Homo sapiens: one gene and its partners. The protein of the gene in region 1 purifies or fractionates together with the protein of each later gene. This does not show direct contact. Each region holds a gene or a part of one and is shown on either strand. Other genes may lie near its edges.

Evidence for each region. The genes of interacting proteins can lie anywhere in the genome.
Region 2: the proteins of LSMEM2 (region 1) and ALG5 purify together in Homo sapiens (affinity purification with mass spectrometry; one large-scale study listed by BioGRID and IntAct). This does not show direct contact.
Region 3: the proteins of LSMEM2 (region 1) and PLBD1 purify together in Homo sapiens (co-immunoprecipitation; one large-scale study listed by IntAct). This does not show direct contact.
Region 4: the proteins of LSMEM2 (region 1) and LSR purify together in Homo sapiens (co-immunoprecipitation; 2 studies listed by BioGRID and IntAct, with this or other methods). This does not show direct contact.

What each region holds. Positions count from the first base shown.
Region 1 is NC_000003.12:50,281,669-50,286,452, reverse strand, and holds part of LSMEM2 (leucine-rich single-pass membrane protein 2), read right to left. Parts: intron 1-4,784.
Region 2 is NC_000013.11:36,963,902-36,968,921, forward strand, and holds part of ALG5 (dolichyl-phosphate beta-glucosyltransferase), read right to left. Parts: intron 3,907-5,020; exon of another isoform or gene 3,771-3,906; intron 1,826-3,770; coding exon 1,674-1,825; intron 1-1,673. UniProt on the Homo sapiens protein: Dolichyl-phosphate beta-glucosyltransferase that operates in the biosynthetic pathway of dolichol-linked oligosaccharides, the glycan precursors employed in protein asparagine (N)-glycosylation.
Region 3 is NC_000012.12:14,507,945-14,512,964, forward strand, and holds part of PLBD1 (phospholipase B-like 1 precursor), read right to left. Parts: intron 3,768-5,020; coding exon 3,567-3,767; intron 3,457-3,566; coding exon 3,316-3,456; intron 1-3,315. UniProt on the Homo sapiens protein: In view of the small size of the putative binding pocket, it has been proposed that it may act as an amidase or a peptidase.
Region 4 is NC_000019.10:35,261,921-35,266,940, reverse strand, and holds part of LSR (lipolysis-stimulated lipoprotein receptor isoform 2 precursor), read right to left. Parts: intron 5,017-5,020; coding exon 4,960-5,016; intron 4,396-4,959; coding exon 4,249-4,395; intron 583-4,248; coding exon 409-582; intron 263-408; coding exon 203-262; intron 106-202; coding exon 1-105. UniProt on the Homo sapiens protein: Probable role in the clearance of triglyceride-rich lipoprotein from blood. Binds chylomicrons, LDL and VLDL in presence of free fatty acids and allows their subsequent uptake in the cells.

The DNA of each region.
Region 1 (4,784 bases):
CTGATTTAGCCAGTGGTGGGTCAACCCCCTTCCTTCTACCAGGTGGCTTCAGGCAGCAAGGACTTGCGGATGATAGGGATAGTGGGACATTTGGTTCCAAATCCCCTAAAACTGACTCAGGAATTACCCTTGATTTGGATCCAGGATGATCCCAGACCCTTACAGGCTTATTCTGTATACAGGAGCAACAGGTACATTTGATTTGTTTCCTTCCAAGCACCCCAGGGACTCACTCAGGCATTCCTCTGCCTGCTTATTTCTAGCAGTTTATCAGCCTTGAATGCTAAACCTGCAGCAAATGGAATTCAGTCCTGCCTCTTTTGTCAGTTCTCCCTGCAGACCCAATGCCTGGCATCTTCTGGTCAGAAAGCCCTATTGTAGCCACTCTGGTGCCTTTCCCTCCTGGCCTTGGTTCTGTGTTTGTTAACATACTCAGTGTGACTCTGCTGTACATGTGTGAACCCTGCTGTTTTCATTCAACATTTACTGTTGGGGAGACCCTTCTTTGTTATACTGTTGCACATGCCTCTGAGGTCTCTCCCTTCACACATCTCCCTGAGGCTGCCTGGGCATCTAGGTTGTTTGCAGTCCCCGCCCCCCTTTTTTTTTTGAGACGGAGTTTCGCTCTTGTTGCCCAGGCTGGAGCGCAATGGCGCGATCTTGGCTCACCGCTGCAGTTCCCTTTTGAAATTAACCCCCAGGACATCCACCGTTGAATATGAAGGTTTTTTCCCAATTTCCTGATAGTTTAATTCCCAGAAGTGGAATTACTGGATCCAAGAGCAGGGATTTTTGTTTGTTTGTTTGTTTTTTGAGATGGAGTCTCCCTGTATTGCCCAGGCTGGAGTGCTATGTCGTGATCTCGCCTCACTGCACCTTCCACCTCCTGGGTTCAAGCGATTCTCCTGCATCAGCCTCCTGAGTAGCTGGGATTACAGGCGTGTGCCACCACGCCCAGCTAATTTTTGTATTTTTGGTAGAGATGAGGATTCACCATGTTGGCCAGGCTGGTCTGGAACTCCTGACCTCAAGTGATCTGCCCGCCTCGGCCTTCCAAAGTCCTGGCATTTACAGGCATGAGCCACTGCATTTGGTCGTTTTTTGTTTTGGTTTGGTTTTTTTAAGATGGAGTCTCCCTCTGTCGCCCAGGCTGGAGTGCAATGGCAAGATCTCGGCTCACTGCAACCTCTGCCTCCCGGGTTCAATCAGTTCTCTGCCTCAGCCTCCTGAGTAGCTGGGATTACAGGCGCCTTCCACCACACCCAGCTACTTTTTATATTTTTAGTGGAGATGGGGTTTCACCATCTTGGCCAGGCTAGTCTTGAACCCCTGACCTTGTGATCCACCCACCTCGGCCTCCCAAAGTGCTGGGATTTACAGGCGTGAGCCACCGTGCCCGGCCTGTTTTTTTGTTTTTGAGACAGAGTCTTGCTCTGTTGCCCAGGCTGGAGTGCAGTGGCGCAATCTTGGCTCATTGCAACCTCCACCTCCTGGGTTCAAGTGATTCTCCTGTTTCAGCCTCCCAAGTAGCTGGGATTACAGATGTGTGCCACCACGCCCTGCTAATTTTTGTATTTTCAGTAGAAACCAGGTTTCACCATGCTGGCTAGGCTGGTCTCAAACTCCTGACCTCAAGTGATCCGCCCGCCTCAGACTCCCAAAGTGCTGGGATTACAGGCGTGAGCCATCGCGCCTGGCCTGAGATTTTTGTTTTGTTTTTGAGACAGATTCTTACTCTTTCACCCAGGCTGGAGTTCAGTGGAGTGATCACAGTTCACCGCAGCCTCCACCTCCTGGGCTCAGGTGATCCTCCTGCATCAGCCTTCCCAGTAGCTGGGACTACAGGCATGCACTACCATGCCCAGTTAATTTTTTTTGTATTTTTTGTAGAGACAGGGTTTTACTATGTTGCCCAGGCTGGTCTCGAGCTCCTGGTCTCAAGAGATCCATCCTGCTTGGCCTCTCAAAATGCTGGGATTACAGGTGTGAGCCACCATGCCCGGCCTGATTTTTTTTAAAGCTATTACCAAACTGTCCTCCAGAAGCACTGTCCACAGCTCCCCCGCAGGGTATAATATTGCCACCATTAGGCATCCCCATAGGAAAAAAATTATATTTACATGCACACGTGCACACATATATTTGCTAACTTGAGAGATGAGAAATGGTCTTTCTTATTTTATTGGGTTTCTTAGCCTAGGGAGTGTGACTAATACGTGTGTGGCGCTTTTTTTTTTTTTTTTTTTTTTGAGACAGTCTTGCTGTGTTGCCCAGGCTGGAGTGCAGTGGTGCGATCTCAGCTCACTGCAACCTCCACCTCCCAGGTTCAAGCAATTCTCGTGCTTCAGCCTCCCAAGTAGCTGGGACTACAGGCACCTGCCACCATGCCTGGCTAATTTTTGTATTTTTAGTAGAGACCAGGTTTTGCCATGTTGGCCAGGCTGGTCTCAAACTCCTGACCTCAAGTGATCCACCCGCCTTGGCCTCCCAAAGTGCTGGGATTATAGGCGCAAGCCACCATGCCCAGCTGTGTGTGGCTTCTTAATTATCAATTTGAAGCCTCTGCCCATTTAGTCACTTGGGTCTGTGTACTTTTCTTTTGATTTTAATTATGTACTTTCACACTCATTGAAGTTTTTGCTTTTTGTTTGTTTGTTTGAGACAGAGTCTCTGTTGCCCTGGCTGGAGTGCAGTGGCACGATCTGGGCTCACTGCAACCTCCGCCTCCCGGGTTCAAGGGTTTCTCCTACCTCACCCTCCTTAGTAGCTAGCACTACAGGTGTGCACCACCACACCCTGCAAATTTTTTTTTTTTTTTTTTTTTTTGAGATGGAGTCTCGCTCTGCCGCCCAGGCTGGAGTGCAGTGGCACGATCTCGGCTCACTGCAAGCTCCGCCTCCCAGGTTCGTGCCATTCTCCTGCCTCAGCCTCCCAAGTAGCTGGGACTACAGGCGTCCGCTGCCATGCCCGGCTAATTTTTTGTATTTTTAGTAGAGATGGGGTTTCACCATGTTAGCCAGGATAGTCTCGATCTCCTAACCTTGTGATCCGTCTGCCTCAGCCTCCCAAAGTTCTGGGATTACAGGTGTGAACCACCGCGCCCGGCCAATTTTTGTATTTTTTGATAAAGATGGGGTTTCACCTTCTTGGCCAGGCTGGTCTTGAACTCCTGACCTCAGGTAATCCACCCGCCTCAGCCTCCCAAAGTGCTGGGATTATAGGCGTGAGCCATCGCACCCAGCCGGTGTTTCGTTTGTTTGTTTGTTTTTGAGACAGAATCTCCCTCTCTTGCCATGCTGGAGTGCAGTGGCGCAATCTCAGCTCACTGCAACCTCCGCCTCCCAGGTTCAACCGATTCTCCTGCCTTAGCCTCCCGAGTGGCTGGAACTACAGGCACGTGCCACCACGCCTGGCTAATTTTTGTATTTTTAGTAGAGACGGGGTTTCACCATGTTGGCCAGGATGGTCTCGATCTCTTGACCTCGTGATCTGCTCACCTCAGCCTCCCAAAGTGCTGGGATTACAGGCATGAGCCACCATGCCTGGCCTTTTGTTTGTCTGTTTTTTTTGAGACAGAGTCTTACTGTGTCACCCAGACTGGAGTACAGTGGCATGATCTCAGCTCACTGCAACTTCTGCCTCCTGGGTTCAAGTGATTTTCCTGCCTCGTCTCCCCAGTAGCTGGGATTACAGGCACGTGCCACCATGCCCAGCTAATTTTTGCATTTTTAGTACAGCTGGGGTTTCACCATTTTGGCCACGCTGGTCTTGAACTCCTGACCTCAAGTCATCTGCCCATCTTGTCCTCCCAAAGTGCTGGGTTTACAGGCATGAGCCACCGTACCTGGCCAATATTTAATTATATTTTCTTCTAGTTGTTCTTTAACTTGATGTCTAAAAATCCTGGTCCAGATGCCAAGAGCTCCAGATACCCACCTGGAAGCTGATAACAGTAGGGAAGAGCATTGAGGGGACACCTCCAGATAGGAGCAAGGGTGGCCTTGCACTCTGGGACTGTCATTCTCAGGACAGTAACTCAACCTCCATGATTTACTTGAAACTGCCTCTTGACGTGCTCAAAAGCAAGTACAACAAAAACAAGCAAGTGCTGCCAGTCATTATGTCTGGGTGGTGGGTTGAAGGTCATATTAAATTCTCTCTTTGGGCCGGGCACTGTGGCTCATGCCTGTAATCCCAGCACTTTGGGAGGCCAAGGCAGGAGGATCATTTGAGTCTAAGAGTTTGAAACCAGCCAGGGCAACGTAGGGAGACCCCATCTCTACAAAAAAATCAAAGATTAGGGCCGGGCATGGTGGCTCACACCTGTAATCCCAGCACTTTGGGAGGCTGAGGTGGGCGGATCACGAGGTCAGGAGTTCAAGATCAGCCTGGTCAACATGGTGAAACCCCATCTGTACTAAAAATACAAAAAATTAGCCGGGCATGGTGATGGGCGCCTGTAGTCCCAGCTACTCAGGAGGCTGAAGGCAGGAGAATAGCTTGAACCCAGGAGGCGGAGCTTGCAGTGATCCAAGCTCAAGCCACTGCACTCCAGCCTGGGCGACAGAGCTAGACCTCGTCTCAAAAAACAAAAAAGTAATTAAAGATTAGTTTGGTGTGGTGGCATGCTTCTGTGGTCCCAGCTTCTCAGGAGGCTGAGGTGGGAGGGTTGCTTGAGTCCAGGAAGTCAAGGCTGCAGTGAGCTGTGATCATGCCATTGTACTCCAGCCTGGGCAACAGAGTGAGACCCTATCTCCAAAAAAAAAAAAAAAAAAAAAAAAATT
Region 2 (5,020 bases), on another chromosome or scaffold:
TTTCAACAGTATTTACTGGGTACCTACTATGTGCTGGGCATGATATTAGATAGTGGGATATACTAATAAGTAAAATTAAATGTGACTCTTGCTCTCATGGAGAAAGATTATGCTTTAATCGAGAAAAAGAAACATTAAGTAATTACACAAATATAAGAAAAAACTACAAATGTCATAGGTGCTATGAATACAGCACATGGCACTGCAACAGGATATAATTAGGGGCACCCGAGCTAATTATATTATCTTTAGAGAGTGAGGGCAGGCTACCCTAAGGAAGATCTGAAGGAGAAGGTGAGAAGGGGCGTGGTTAGAAAAGAAAAGAGTCCGCATGTGGAGACACAGGTGGGGCCAGACTAAAGACCATGGGAAGCCCATGAAGGAATATAAGCAGAAGAGGTGCATATGATTGATCACACTTAAGTTTGCAAAGACCTTGTGGGCTACAGCATGGTAGTATGGAGAAGGATGGTGTTCTGGATGGCGGTGGTAGAGATGGAGAGAAATGGAGGAACACAAAAGCTAAAATCAACAGGCCCTGTCATGGATTGGATATATGCATGTGGAGAATGTCAGGGCTGATGTCAGGGTTTCAGCTTCTGTACAACAGTGCTAGCCACCTGTATCTCCAGTATATTTCAAAAGAGAGCTCAGGAGTATCAAATGCTGCTGATGGGTTAAGTGTGACAAGTGGTCATTTAACATGACCACTGGCTTCAATGACATAGAGGTGGCTAGATGTTAAGATGAAGTAGACTGGGTGCAGTGGCTCACGTCTGTAATCGCAGCACTTTGGGTGGATCACCTGAGGTCAGGAGTTCAAGACCAGCCTGGCCAACATGGTGAAACCTCATCTCTACTAAAAATACAAAAACTAGCTGGGTGTGGTAGCGCCCACCTGTAATCCCAGCTACTTGGGAGGCTGAGGCAGGAGAATCACTTGAACGCGGGAGGCGGAGGTTGCAGTGAGCTGAAATCCTGCCATTGTACTCCATCCTGGGCAACAAGAGCGAAACTCAAAAAAAAAAAAAAATGATGAGGCATGGAAGAAAATCCATATGAAGAAGGTGGGGTGAGGAGTGAGTGGGAAGCAAGAAAACAAAGCCAGTGAATATAAAACACTTTTTCAAGAGAAGGTTGCTTGTGAAGGAGACAGGGCTAGAGCTGGAAGGGCACAGCAGGGTCAATGGAAAGGGTTCTGGGAAAGATGTGATGGAAGGGAAAAGGCTGAATACACAAGAGATGAAATACATGGACAGGATTAGGTTTTGACAAGGTGGAAGGAGATGTAGAGGTCAAAAGATCGGTCTTAGGAAAGACACCTTATCTTCCGTAGAAGGAAGAAAAGAGAAAATGGGTGCCCTATTCTGTTTTGATGTTTCTGAGCTTTTTCTTTTTTCTTCAAAGGAAAAAAAATGTTTTCAGGCCACTCAATTTCTACTGTCTACAATTAAGGTGAACACACATAACTTTATACCATATTGTTGGGTTTGTGTATTTTCAAAATAAGATCCAACTCAGGAAAAGTATAAAGGCAAGATCAAGTTTACATACATTATTGTCAATTTTGTTTAAATCTACATGTTCATTATAAATATACAGGGCTGTTTCTCATTACCTAGAAGATGGCTGGGTCATAAGACAGACTGGATACATTCCAGTCAGAAACCTACCATCGTTCAACGTGTAGAGATGAAAACGTCCGTGAAGCTGCTTCTCGAGTAAATAATTTGAACCCACACTGTGTGTCCCTGATTCCTTTGACACAAAGGAACCACACCAGAAAGTGGAACCCATACATGAGAAGAGTACGGAAGTAAGAACGCTGAAAACAAAGACAAAATATAAATGACTTTTCCATTCATCTGTAAAGGAGACACTGAAAACACCTGGCTGTAGACAACTGTATTTTAATATTTAATTGACTGGTAGATCTTACATAAGAACACCACTGTTCCATGAGCTTCACCAACAAAGTATATTAAAGAAACAGCAAGAATGCCTACTGCTTGGAGCAGAGTAGAGGCACTAGGAAGCAGTTACTCATTTCCTGGAGGTTGAGTCAGACAAGCGGCCAGGGCTTTAGCCTACCAGGAGAAACAGGTTTGGGGCTGCTGCTGTGAGCAAGGAGAACGTCTTGTTTACTTACATATTTTATGCTGCTTTGCCCCACATGTATTTCAGTTTCAAAAAAGCTGTCAGTTTCCAGGATGTATTGACAAAACAAAGCACAGATATAAGCCTGCAGTTGATACTTAACTAATGAGAATATTGACAGAAGATGTATAGCAGAGTATCATGAAGGTTATGGACTAGAAAGGAGTTTGAAACAAACACCTGGTCTTTCTAAGCATGCCAGAGATCTAATTAAATACATTTAAAATATTGAGTTCTTTAATACTTTGGATATTAAGATTAAGTAGGTTTTAATCCCATCTGAAGTTTCACTACTGTTACTGATGATTAATTTTATTAGTAGTAACAGAATATTCCATTATTCATAAAACATAGCACATTTTAAAACATAAGAACATAAGATTATTATCACTGGATTCCAGACTTTCACATTTAAGATTTAGTAAAAGATAGGATCTTTCTAAAAAATAAAATAACAAAATTTTTTTTAGAGACAGAGACGCCTTCTGTTGTCCAGGCTAGAGTCCAGTGGTGTGGTCATGGTTCACTGCAGCCTCAAATTCCTGGGATCAAGTGATCCTTCTGCCTCAACCTACAGAGCAGCTGGGATCACAGGCGTGTGCCACTATACCCAGCTTCTTTAAGACACGATCTTTTAAAATGTTCCTTAGTTAAGGCAATAGACTCAAGTAATGATGCGTTACTTACATACATAAGCAACCTATTAAGAGTCTATTAGAACATTTAATATCTCATACTATGGGATAAAGGTCCCTTCCTCCTTTTGGCTTTTGCTTTTCAAAATTATAATTTTTAGTATCGTTCTTCCTTTGCATGGCTTTTTCCATCAACACCAAACAGAACCACAGTGGAACAGAGTAACAAAGAAAAAGCACCAAATCAGGCGAGGTGCGGTGGCTCACACCTGTAATCCCAGCACTCTGGGAGGCCGAGGCAGGTGGATTGCTTGAGGTCAGGGGTTCAAGACCAGCCTGCCCAACATGGCGAAACCCCATCTCTACTAAAAATACAAAAATTAGCCAGGCATGGTGGCACACGCCTGTAGTCCCAGCTACTTAGGAGGCTGAGGCAGAAGAATCGCTTGAACTTGGGAGGCACAGGTTGCAATGAGCCGAGATGGCGCCACTGTACCCCAGCCTGGGTGACAGAGTGAGACTCCAACTCAAAAAAAAAAAAAAAGAAAAAAAGAAAAGAAAAGAAAAAGCACCAAACTAGGAGGCCTATATTGGAATCCTGGCTCCGTTACTAATTAGCAGGGTGACCTTCAACAAGTTACTTCAGCCCTCTAAGTCCATTTCCTGATAAAATGAGAATAATGCCTACCTCACAAAGTTATTATAAGGATTAAATGAGATTATTTTAAAGAATATAGCGAAGTGTTTGGCACAGAAAATAACAGGAACTCAATAATGTTCTTCATACAGGAAGAAAGCTTGAAAGCTTACTTTACTCTCCTGACCACAATTTTACTTATGTATTAAATAGGGCAGGAAGGAAAGGAAGAATAAAATACTTATCTATATGGTATGTAAAACAAACTTTTAAAAATGATCTAGCACTTCTCATTTATCATCTAGAATCATTAGTTATGGGTTGATGTAAATATGTCTTACCTCTCTAAGTAGATAGGGCAGAAACCTCATCTTAAAATACTTTAGGAATCTCACAACAGCTTGCTCAGTGCCTTCCATACAAAATACTTCCAATAAATACTGGTTGACTGATTAAACCTCCAAAAGAGCACTTATGCTTAGGAAAGGAACAAATAGAAATTGAAAGATAGAAAAATAAAAATTAAAGGTAGAAAAACAATACCTATAAATTATTCTCCTTGAGTGATTTTTAATGTGATTTGAGTGAGCTTATTTGTTCGCAAATAAAACTATTCATGACTGCTCTGGCTTGGATGTTAATAACAGGATTTTTGTTTGCTTTAGGATAATGGCTATTTTTTAAAAAGCAGAAAAATGTAGAGTTCACATGAAGACCTTAAGTTATTTGATTTCTAACATATTTAAAAGCTTAACAAGGTTAGTCACAAACAAGATAATCTTGTTTTTGTTTTTAGAACTTTGCAAAATATCTTAAAATTTAGAAGATACCTAAAATATAGGATAGACTTATTTAGTTAAGTGAAGCTACTAAAAGAGAGAAGGCTTATATGATCTTCTGAAATGGCCATTTAAAACATTAAGGAAAACAATTTTCACTGTTTCAGTGTTAACGCTAGTATCTTCAATGTTTATAAAATGTAAACAAGAAATTAATTCAGGTGAAATTTAAAGGTGACTTCTAATTTCATTAACTTAAAATAAGAAGTTCAAAGAAGTCCCAGGACTTAAGCAAAGACTCTTTAAACAAAAACTAAAAACATTAAGTAACCACTAATGGATTCTATTTTTGAATCCTTTTAAAATGATAAATTCAAGAATAGCCAGACCATATATAAACATTACCGTTATACAGAACACATGGGAATGTAAGCACTTTTAAGGATGATACAAGACTCTATCAGGGCAGTGTCATGTTTGTCTTCCAAGGGAGCAGTAAAAGAGGTGGTAGAATAATTGAGAAATGTAGAAAAATATCAAGGAAAGATGTTTCTGAACATTAGGCAATAAGCTACCGAAGTTGTCATTTGCTATCTTGATTAGTTCTTTTATAATTTTCTCATTGTCCACAGATTGATCACCATGCAGGGGTTTATTACTGACAGCACACGAAGGGAAATGGAAAGCCATGCTGCAGTTTTCTAGACATGAGGCGGATGCATGTCTTGTGCCTTCTTGGAGACAACCTTTTGTGAGACAGCTATGATTCTATAAGAATAAGCTGGACTTGAACAAGCCTACTGAGCAGTAGT
Region 3 (5,020 bases), on another chromosome or scaffold:
GCAGGGTTCTCTCCCACCTCCACATTCTCTCCTGGCCCTTTTCTGCCTTTCTCCTTTGTATTGTTGTACAGGACCTCCTCTTTAGGGGTGAGGTTACTGAGACAAAAAGAAAATGATAAGACATTCAGCCTTGCTAATTCTGAGACAGAGCCAGCATCAGAAGAACTGAGATATGGATGACATTGAAATTAAAGAAGAAAAACAGATTTGTTGCTAAAACATATCTAGGTTATATAGGCTCAGGAATTAGATTGCCTGGATTTGAAGCCTGGTTCTGCCATTATTAGGTATGTGACCTTGAACAAATTGCTTATCCCCTTTGTGCCTCAGTTTCTTCATCTTCATTAACTATTCAGCATTAAGCATCTTCATAAGCATGAGCATGAAATGCATTCAGATGGAGTGCTTACAATAGTATCTAATACTTGGTAAACATTAGATTATTATATTTCTCTTTGTGAAAACAGCTCAAATGAATAACGAAAATGTCTACTTTATACTTCACATTTCATGAAGCTTCGTGATTTAAAACAGAGCAACTTGGCCTGGTGCAGTGGCTTGTGCCTGTAATCCCAGCACTTTGGGAGGCTGAGGCAGGTGGATTGCTTGAGCTCTGAAGTTCAAGACCAGGCTGGGCAATATGGCAAGACCCTGCCTCCACTAAAAATATAAAAAAATAGCCAGGCATTGGGGTGCACACCTGTGGTCCCAGCTACTCGGGAGGCTGAGGCCCGAGAACCGCTTGAACCCGAGAGGCAAAGGTTGTAGTGAGCCGAGATCACGCAGCTGCAATCTAGCCTGGGTGACAAAGCGAGACCCTGTCTCAAAATAAATAAAGAAAATAGAGCAGCTTGTTTAATCTCACAAAAACCTGATGATGTATAAGTATTACCATCCCTTTTTTAAACAGAAGAAACAGAGTTTCAGAGAGGTCAATTGTCTTCCTTGGCTCACAAAACTTGACAGAATACAGGCCTTCTAACTAAAACATCCAGGGCTTCTATCACCATACCACAGTTGCTTAAATACGTTAGGAGATGTGCCCACCCCCGACCCCGACGCCCCCGCCTTTTTAATGGCTATATGATATCATGTATTTGTTTGGGCAAAACATGTTTCTTTCTGAGCTTTTCTTTACTCACAGTAAAATGGCAACAATAACACTTATGGGGTAGTATGTTACAAACATCAAACAAGAGAACATAAGTAAAAGGCCCAGAAGAGTGTCTAGAATGCAGTAGGTACTCTGAATTTAACTCTCTGTTCTTCTCTCCTCTGGCAAAGAAAAAAAAATACAGACAGATCATCATCAACTCTTTTTAGTCTTAGGGAGTTTCAAGGGGTCTAGGAATGGGACTGCAGAGAACCAAGTCTACCATTCTGTTATCAGCAACTGTCCAAAGAAGAAAAGACTACTTTAGCAAGCATCTCTCTCTCTTGAGGCATGCTATTATTTTCAGGCTCTTAGGAGCTGGGTTCTCTGTTTTGAATTGCTCTATGCTAAACAGTAACCACCTAATGATTTGACTTCTTGGATGGATTTTCCTAACAAGCAAAGAAGAAGGTAGGTCCACTGCTTGGTAGCATATGAACTGCTTGGCAATGAAACTCCCACCTTTTGTTTTATGCATAAGTCTTAGTGCATTTAGTTGGTGTGACCCATTCTCCACTGACAAGGCTCACTCTAGGCATCATTACAAAGTCAATTTGGGGACCTGGAAAACTGAGGACCAGGTCCTGATCCCTAGGGTCCACACTTTATCTCCGTTCTGTCCCTATTCATCTGCCAGTTGATCTATTGCAATAGTCTCCTAACTAGTCTCTTTTCTTCCCACCCAGTCTATTCTCCCTTGTCAGGAACTCCCAATTTCTAAAACATAAAGTCTGAACTGTCCAGTAGGATTTTTAAAGCTAACATTTTCTCTCAATAAATCTATCTATTTATCTTAATTAATTTTCATGACCATCCTGTGAAATTGTAGAGTTCCACACTCCCACATCCAGAAATTCTTGGGAGCCAGATGAGTCTCAGAATTTAGGGTTTTTCAGACTTTAGAACAACCATGGAGTGCATGGATTATATGACATTACAGTCTCTTTGGGAAACACCTCATAATCAAAGATGTTGATATTTCTGTAGCCTAATGTATACATGGTGTCTCTAAGAGGAAATAAAGACAATTTAAAAAAACAGGCTGGGCACCACAATTTGGAAGGCCGACGCAGACAGATCACCTGAGGTCAGGAGTTCAACCTGGCCAACTGGTGAAACCCCGTCTCTACTAAAAACACACAAAAAATTAGCCAGGTGTGGTGGCACGTGCCTGTAGTCCCAGCTACTCAGGAGGCTGAGACAGGAGAATCGCTTGAACCCGAAAGGCAGAGGTTGCAGGGAGCCGAGATCGCACCACCGTACTCCAGCCTGGGTGACAGAGCGACACTCCATCTGAAGAAAAATAAAAATTAAAATTAAAAACCACTAAAAGTTTCTTTCTGGTAGTTTTTGCTGCCAAGTGAGTTCAGATCAGGTCATTTTCTTGCTACCAAGTGAGCTAGGCTACCAAATCAAAGCAAAACAAGAGAAACAAAATAATAATTTGTGGTTTTACAATTTTGGAATTTTAAAATTACAAATACGTGGTTGTGGACCTATATCACGATTCAGTTTTATAGATGAGGAAAATGAGGCTTGGAGAGATTCACTAATTTGCCTGAGATTTTAAGGAACTGAGATTTGAATCAAGGCAGTGAGCCTCCTGGCTTCAAATGTCTGGACTCCTTCTTGCCCACCAGAAGTGCCTTCTCTGACTCCACCCACTAACAGCCACGTTCTGTTTAGGTTCACCACTGGCCTAGGGACATGAGACCTGATGACAGCTCTTCCCATCCTGAGTTCCTGCAGCTGCTTTGAGTGCTTTGCTTCCCTACTAGACTCCTGAGTCCTTCCAGGTCAGGGATTCTGTATCCTTGCTTTTCTAGTCCCTGGGCCACAGTGGCACTCCAAAAATATTTGCTGAATTGAACTTAAAGCTTTAACCAGGAACACAGGAGAAAAGGTAACATTAGAACTATGAGAAATCATAGAGTCATGAATGCCTGATTTGCGTCCCAATCTGCACATTGTCCTATAAGAGTTTGAGATGTAGGTTTACATGTTGTGCTAAACCTGGTCATTCTGGTGTAATATAGCATCCCCATCCTGTCTTCCCCACCATACCCTCCCCCACCACACATTCACACAATGTGCATTCCCCTACCATATATGAACACACACATACTCATCAGGTTTTAAGACTTACGACATGAAGAAAGTACCTTTCCGTAGAACATCAGTTTGTTCAGAATATTCTACATATGTAGGAATTTGCTCCACAATGTACAGAGTGCCTTTGTCAAGACTGTGGTTCAGCTTTACTTTCTTCAGGTCCAGAACCATGTATTGATTGTTATAGGTGCCTGAAATATCAGGAAACATGAAGACGGGGCATGGGTATGACTTTACTGGTTAACAAGCCTAAATCAAAATATATGTCTGTGCCTAACAGTTATTCTGCAGGGTCACTTACCAGAGTTGTATTTTGAAAAGATGTCTGCCCACCTCTTGCCACTATCTGCCATCATATTGGCCACACGGACTCTTTGCCAGGACAGGAGAGTCTCGGGTATTACCTGCTTTAGCAGGGTTTTATTAAACACACTGTTTGTGGTCTGCAGCAATATCAATCCACTGCTAAGAATGTAAAAATCATCCAGAGACTCCAAAAACCCTACAGGAAAGACAAATATACACATCAGCATATGTATACATGGAACAGTGAACCATCATTATTGACAAAGAGCTTTACATACACAATGCATTTTGCAAAGTGTATCAGTTATTACTATCCTTGATCTGCAGTAGCCTCCCCCAGCTTTGGCTCACCTCTGTGGTAGTCACCCAACTGCCCCTTATAGAGGTGCCAAAAGAACTCCACCCCTGGATTCTCCATTGAAAATTTATTTTGTGATTTGAAATAACAAAAATATGTTAAATCCAGAACATTGCAAGCTTCCAGAATGATAAACAGATGTAGATCCCGACTTGCTAGGATTTTGCAGGAGAATTTTTAATTAGGGAGGGGATTAGCAGGGTTCATTAGTAAGAATATAAATGCCTTTTTTTCTTCTTTTCTACTTTCCTGTATTTTTCAAATTTTGTATAAGTCTACTTTTTTTTTTTTTTTGACACACAGTCTGACTCTGTCACCCAGGCTGCAGTGTGGTGGCATGATCTCAGCTCACTGCAACCTTGCCTCCTGGGTTCAAGCAATTCTTGTGCCTCAGCCTCCTGAGTAGCTGGGGTTACAGGTGTGCACCACCACACCTGGCTAATTTTTGTATTTTTAGTAGAGACCGGGTTTCACCGTGTTGGCCAGGCTGGTCTCAAACTCCTGACCTCAAGTGATTCACCCACCTTAGCCTCTAAAGTGCTGGGATTACAGGTGTGGGCCACCACACCCGGCTAAGTCTACATAATTTTTATAAATGGAAAAACATCTACATTTAGAAAAGTAAAGATGGTTTTGAAACTAGGGCATTGACACTCTTGGTCAATGCTTTTTTATAAATGTTGGAGGCAACACAGGAAAATCAGTGAAGCCACAGTCTTTTCTGAAGACCTATTTTGTGGTTTATACTGGGATGAGTATGGAAAGGATAGAATATCAGGCACAGCTGTAATAAAAAGAGAGGATATACTGTCATCAGTAACAGTAATGGAACAACTGTCAGTGTTAAACAGAAAAGGACCTCAGTGGTAGGGTTAGAAGGGGCCAGAGTGGTAAGTTCCTTCGGTGCATCCTGCTGAAGGGTTTTAAGGCCCTTACAAAACAGTCCCGAGGGAGCTAGCTAGCCCCTTCCACTATGTGAGGTCACAGAGAGAAGGCACTGTCTACGAGAAACAGACCCTCATTAGACACTGAGTCTTCCAGTCCCTTCATCTTGGGCTTCCCAGCCTCCAGAACTGTGAGCAATAACATTT
Region 4 (5,020 bases), on another chromosome or scaffold:
CAGGTCGAGAAGGGTCGAAGTTGGCCAGCTCCTTCTCCATGTAGTACAGGACCCGCATGGAGTCGTCCTGCTGGCTGGCCTGAATCCTGTAGCCACTGCGGACTTCTAGGGACAGGGGGGTGGTGGTCGGTTTGGGAGGATGGATCCTGGCCCACCCCTCTCCCTTACAGGCACATCCAACTTCGGGACGATGGATTCTCACCAGAGGCCACACTGCTGTCCGTGTCCCGAAGCAGGGGTACATAGGAGCCTTGGCCACCAGCTGGGGGAGAGTGGCTGTCAGTGGCCGCGCACCAGGAGCAGAGCCCCTCCTCGGCTCCCAAGACACTCTTCCTTCCAGCCCCTGCCCCTCAGTGTCCAGATGCCCAGCACACTCCCACCAGCTGTTCCTGCTTCCCCCGGCCTCACCTGAGCTACTCCTGTCAACGTCTCCAGGGTATCCTCCAGGGTACCCGTTGTAGGCAGGGCCCATGGGAATCATAGCTGGTGGGGGTGGGGTCTTGGCGGGAGACAGGTGGGCATAGGTGCTGGGGGCATAAATGCTGGGAACACCTGAGGTGGCTGCTTTGCCGGCGGCATACACTGTGAGGACACAATCAACAGGAGAAGGGGGATGAGGCAGGAGCCAGGCTGCCCCATACCCATTGGGTTCCGGAGGGACCTGGGCCTGGACCTCCTTCCCAAGCCGTCCTCTCCGCTGTAGAGCTTCCTTGGACATCTGAGTCCCTGTTGGTCCTCATTCCATTTCTGCAGCATCCCTGAGGCTGGGGGACACCAGCTTCACAGAGACCCCACCCCACTTCCTGTGTGATTTTTCAGAGGGTGCACGCAGGCACCCACAGCCCCAGGGTGGCAGAACAATGTTTCATTTAACAGCATGGTAATTCGCCAACATTTGTCAATCAAAAGGTTTTACCTAAACTTCCAACTCCCCAGCTAACTTACTGGAAGAAGTGGCCACCCATGGTCTGTGTGTTTACAGGGCAACAAAGCTGCCCTTTATATAAAGCCCAGATGCTGGGTCCACCACTGTCCCCACAAGCCGAAATCAAGTATCCTCTTTGGCAGCCAAGCCCCTGTTCTAGAAAAAATGAGTCATCTGGGAGACGTGGGTCCTGCCCACCTGGTCACCTTCCAGATTGAGATGCAGTGGCAGGAGCCTCGGGAATTAACTTGCCTGCCCCGGCCAAGCAGCAAAGTGTCTCCTCTAGTGTTTCTAACTCATGGACTGCACCCATTTCTGCCTGCCCCACCAGGCTCTAGGCTTGACAGTTCAAGGTAAGATCCTCCTCCCTTCCTTCCTCCCTAGGGCAAGAGGCTTGCAAAATTCCTGGGCCCTAGGCAAGTGGCTTCCTCCCTGGGACCCCAACAGGAAAATGGAGGAGAGAGATGGGCCCAGAGAGGGTGCCTCACCTCTGATTTGGTTTGGAAGCAGAAGACTAAGTGCACAGCCTAGAGGAAGCCCCTTCATTAGCTCAGGCAGCCTGCAACTTTATCATCAGCAGTGGGACCTGCTGCCTCCTGAAGGGTGGGCGGAGGCTGTGGCAGCAGCAGATGTAACAGGGCCTCTGCCAGGGAGTTAATGGGGCCCTGGGTTGGGGTAACAGGGTCTCCGGATGGAGGAAATGTGGTGTGGGGACAGGGGAATGTGGCATTGGGACCAGCATTTAGTCCTGGCCCTAGCTCTGGTCTTAGTGGGTTCACTGCAAACTTGGTTGCAGCCCATCTGTGAAATGGACCTAACACTTACTCACTGAGCAAAAAGCTGTCAGCTGAACACAACAAGAGGGAGGGGATGGGATGGCCTGCATAAGCCTCCAGGGAGCAGTGGAATTTTTTCAGGGAAGTGATCCTTTGAGGAACCAGGTTGCACACCACTGACTTCAATGACTATAAAATTAGCCAGCGACTTCCTTAATGCTAACAACAACCCATGAAGTCAGGACCTAACAGAAGGAAACAGGACTCAGAGAGGGAAGGCTGCTTCTCTGGGGTCACTCTGTGTGCACCAGGGCTCTGACTGGTGCCCTGTCCCTCAGTCACTACTGAGGCTGATAGTGGCAGTGCCCAGCAGCTGACAGACGTAGAATATTTTATATAGGTTGGGCCCCATGCTCAATGGTGTGCACATGAGCTCGCCAAATCCCCAGATGCACCCAGTGTGGTGAGCTCTGCCATAAGCCCCATTTTATAGGGGATGACACTGAGCCCTAGGGAGGGAAACTGCTCACTGGGCTTCTGAGCAGGAAGGTGTCAAGCAGGCCTCAGCTCTCCACCTGCCCATGCTTGCAAGGATTGCCTGGCACTTCACTGTTCATGTATCTTGGACTGTGTGCACACAGGCTGGTCTACCCAGACACCCTCCTGAAGGAAACCAAGGACTGGCAACAGCTGTGGTCCCCGAGGAGGGGAAACGGGACAGCAGCTAGAGGGATGCTGAAGTGTCCATCAGTGCCACTTAGTGTACACACTGTGGTCTGGTGTCCCAAGGCTGATGGCTGTGACCACGTCAATCAGCTCCTCTGTGAAAGTGTCCCGTTGGGATATTCACAAACATTCACAGAAGAGAGACAGGAGCAAGTCTTTTTCAATTGCACATGTCTGACTCCTCTCATAGAGTTAGGTCCCTCTCTCTCTGTCTTCTGTCTTCTCTTACCTTCCCCTGCTTGGTTTGCTTACTTCCCCTTTAGCTCTCATCTCACATCCAGTCCCAGCTCTCCACAGTAGCCATGCTGGTGTGCTAGATACGACCCTAGACATAGTAGCTGGGTAAAATGTGCAGCATTCCTGTGGGTATGTGTTTTCAAACATTTGCTTAAATTTGGCCAGGCATGGTGGCTCACACCTGTAGTCCTAACACTTTGGGAGGCCAAGGTAGGGGTGCGGGGGAGCGGACTGCCTGAGGTCAGGAGTTCGAGACCAGCCTGGCCAACATGGCAAAACCCCGTCTCTACTAAAAATACAAAAATTAGTCAGGCGTGGTGGCAGGCGCCTATATCCCAGCTACTCGGGAGGCTGAGGCAGGAGAATAGCTTAAACCCGGGGGGCGGAGGTTGCAGTGAGCAGAGATCACGCCACTTTACTCCAGCCTGGGCGACAGAGTGAAACTGTCTCCAAAAAAAAAAAAAAATTTGCTTAAGTTTAAGGCCAGGTGTGGTAGTTCATGCCTGTAATCCCATCACTTTGGGAGCCTGAGGCAGGATCACTTGAGGTCAAGAGTTCAAGACCAGCCTGGGCAACATAGCAAGACCCTGTCTCTACAGAAAATTTTTAAAAATTGGCCAGCATGGTGGCACATGCCTGTAATCCCAGCACTTTGGGGAGGCTGACTTGGGAGGATCACCTGAGGCCAGGAGTTTGAGATCAGGCTGGGCAACATACTGAGACCCCGTCTCTACAAAAAACAAAAATCAAAAAATTAGCTGGGCATGGTGGTGTGTGCCTACAGTCCCAGCTGCTCCAGAGGCTGAGGCGGGAGGACTGCTTGAACCCGGGAGTTTGAGGCTGCAGAGAGCTATGATCGCACTGCACTGCCTGGATGACAGAATGAGACCCTTTCTCTAAAACAAAAAAAATTTTTTTTGCTTAAATCATGTAGTGTTGTAAACCTTGTTTGGTTTCTTAACTTTTTCACTTAACATTTTTTTTTCTTTTTTTTTTGAGACAGAGTCTCACTCTGTCGCCCAGGCTGGAGTGCAGTGGCGTGATCTCAGCTCACTGCAACCTCCACTTCTTGGGTTTAAGCGATTCTCATGCCTCAGTCTCCTGAGTAGCTGGGATTACAGGCGATCACCACCATGCCCAGCTAATTTTTGTATTTTTAGTAGAGAACTGGGTTTTACCATGTTGGCCAGGCTGATCTGGAACTCCTGACCTCAAGTGATCCACTCGTCTTGGCCTCCCAAAGTGCTGGGATTACAGGCGTAATCACTGCGCCTAGCCAAGATTTGGTTTTTTTAGAGGGCTTTACTTCCATGTGACTAGTATCTTGTACTGTTGGACATTTTTACCATGTGTATGGATTATACTTACAAAAGAAAAGAACAACATAAATAAAAATAAACTAAAAGTTGGAGGAAGTAAACGACAATCTAAACAGCAGACCCTCCTCAGCCTACTTTCTCCCCACTGGCTAAATTCACACCCTCCAGACCAACGCCACTGTCCTGGGGGCAGGTGGATGGCCACCTCCTTCCCTTGGATGCAGGATGTTGCCCAAACCAGGGTGGCCATGAGCGGGACACTTACGGGCCTCGGGGCAGCAGCACTTGTCTGGGCAGCAGGGGCACCTGACGTAGCAGCAGCAAGTGTGCGGGCAGCACTGGCACCAGCAGATGCCCAGGAGGAGGAAGATGAGGAAGGCAGCCAGGCATACCACAACCACGAAGAGCCAGTCTGCAGAAAGACAACAGGCCCTGAGCCCGGAGGCCTGGGAGGGAACAGGGCTAACGGCACAGCAGGGGTACATGGTGCGGAGCCAGCACTGAGGTCGGGGACGATTTGCAAAGCTCACCAAGGAACCTGCAGCCCTGGCTGGATTTTTTGTGCCAGAGGCTGGGCACAGCACACTCCCCATTCTACCATCCCGGCCATTCCCCAGTTACGGCCCTCCCCCAGGTGCAAAAAACACAAGGCAGAAAACGAGGCAGCCTGCACAGAGGGAGACAGACTGCAGCCCCCAGACCAAAGAGAGAGCCAGCTGCCCAGACGCCACACCCTCAAGAGCACCGCAGGTGCCAGTCACAGAGCCCTGGCCTGCACCCCAGGCTCTCCTCAGCCCAGCCTAGCCTAGGCCCAGCGCCAGACCACTAGATGCCTCAGAGCCACAGTCAGGCCAGGTTAGTGAGGGGTCCACAGTGAGCAGGGTTTAGTGGGGAAGGGGATACTAACTAGAGTCAGAAGCAGTAGGTGATGTATGGGAGCTCCCGAGAAGCCCAACTCAGGATCCACCCCCCGTACCTTCTATGGGCCCCGCCTGAAAACCAGGTAAGAGCTCAGCCACCCCTGAGGTCCTCCCTGG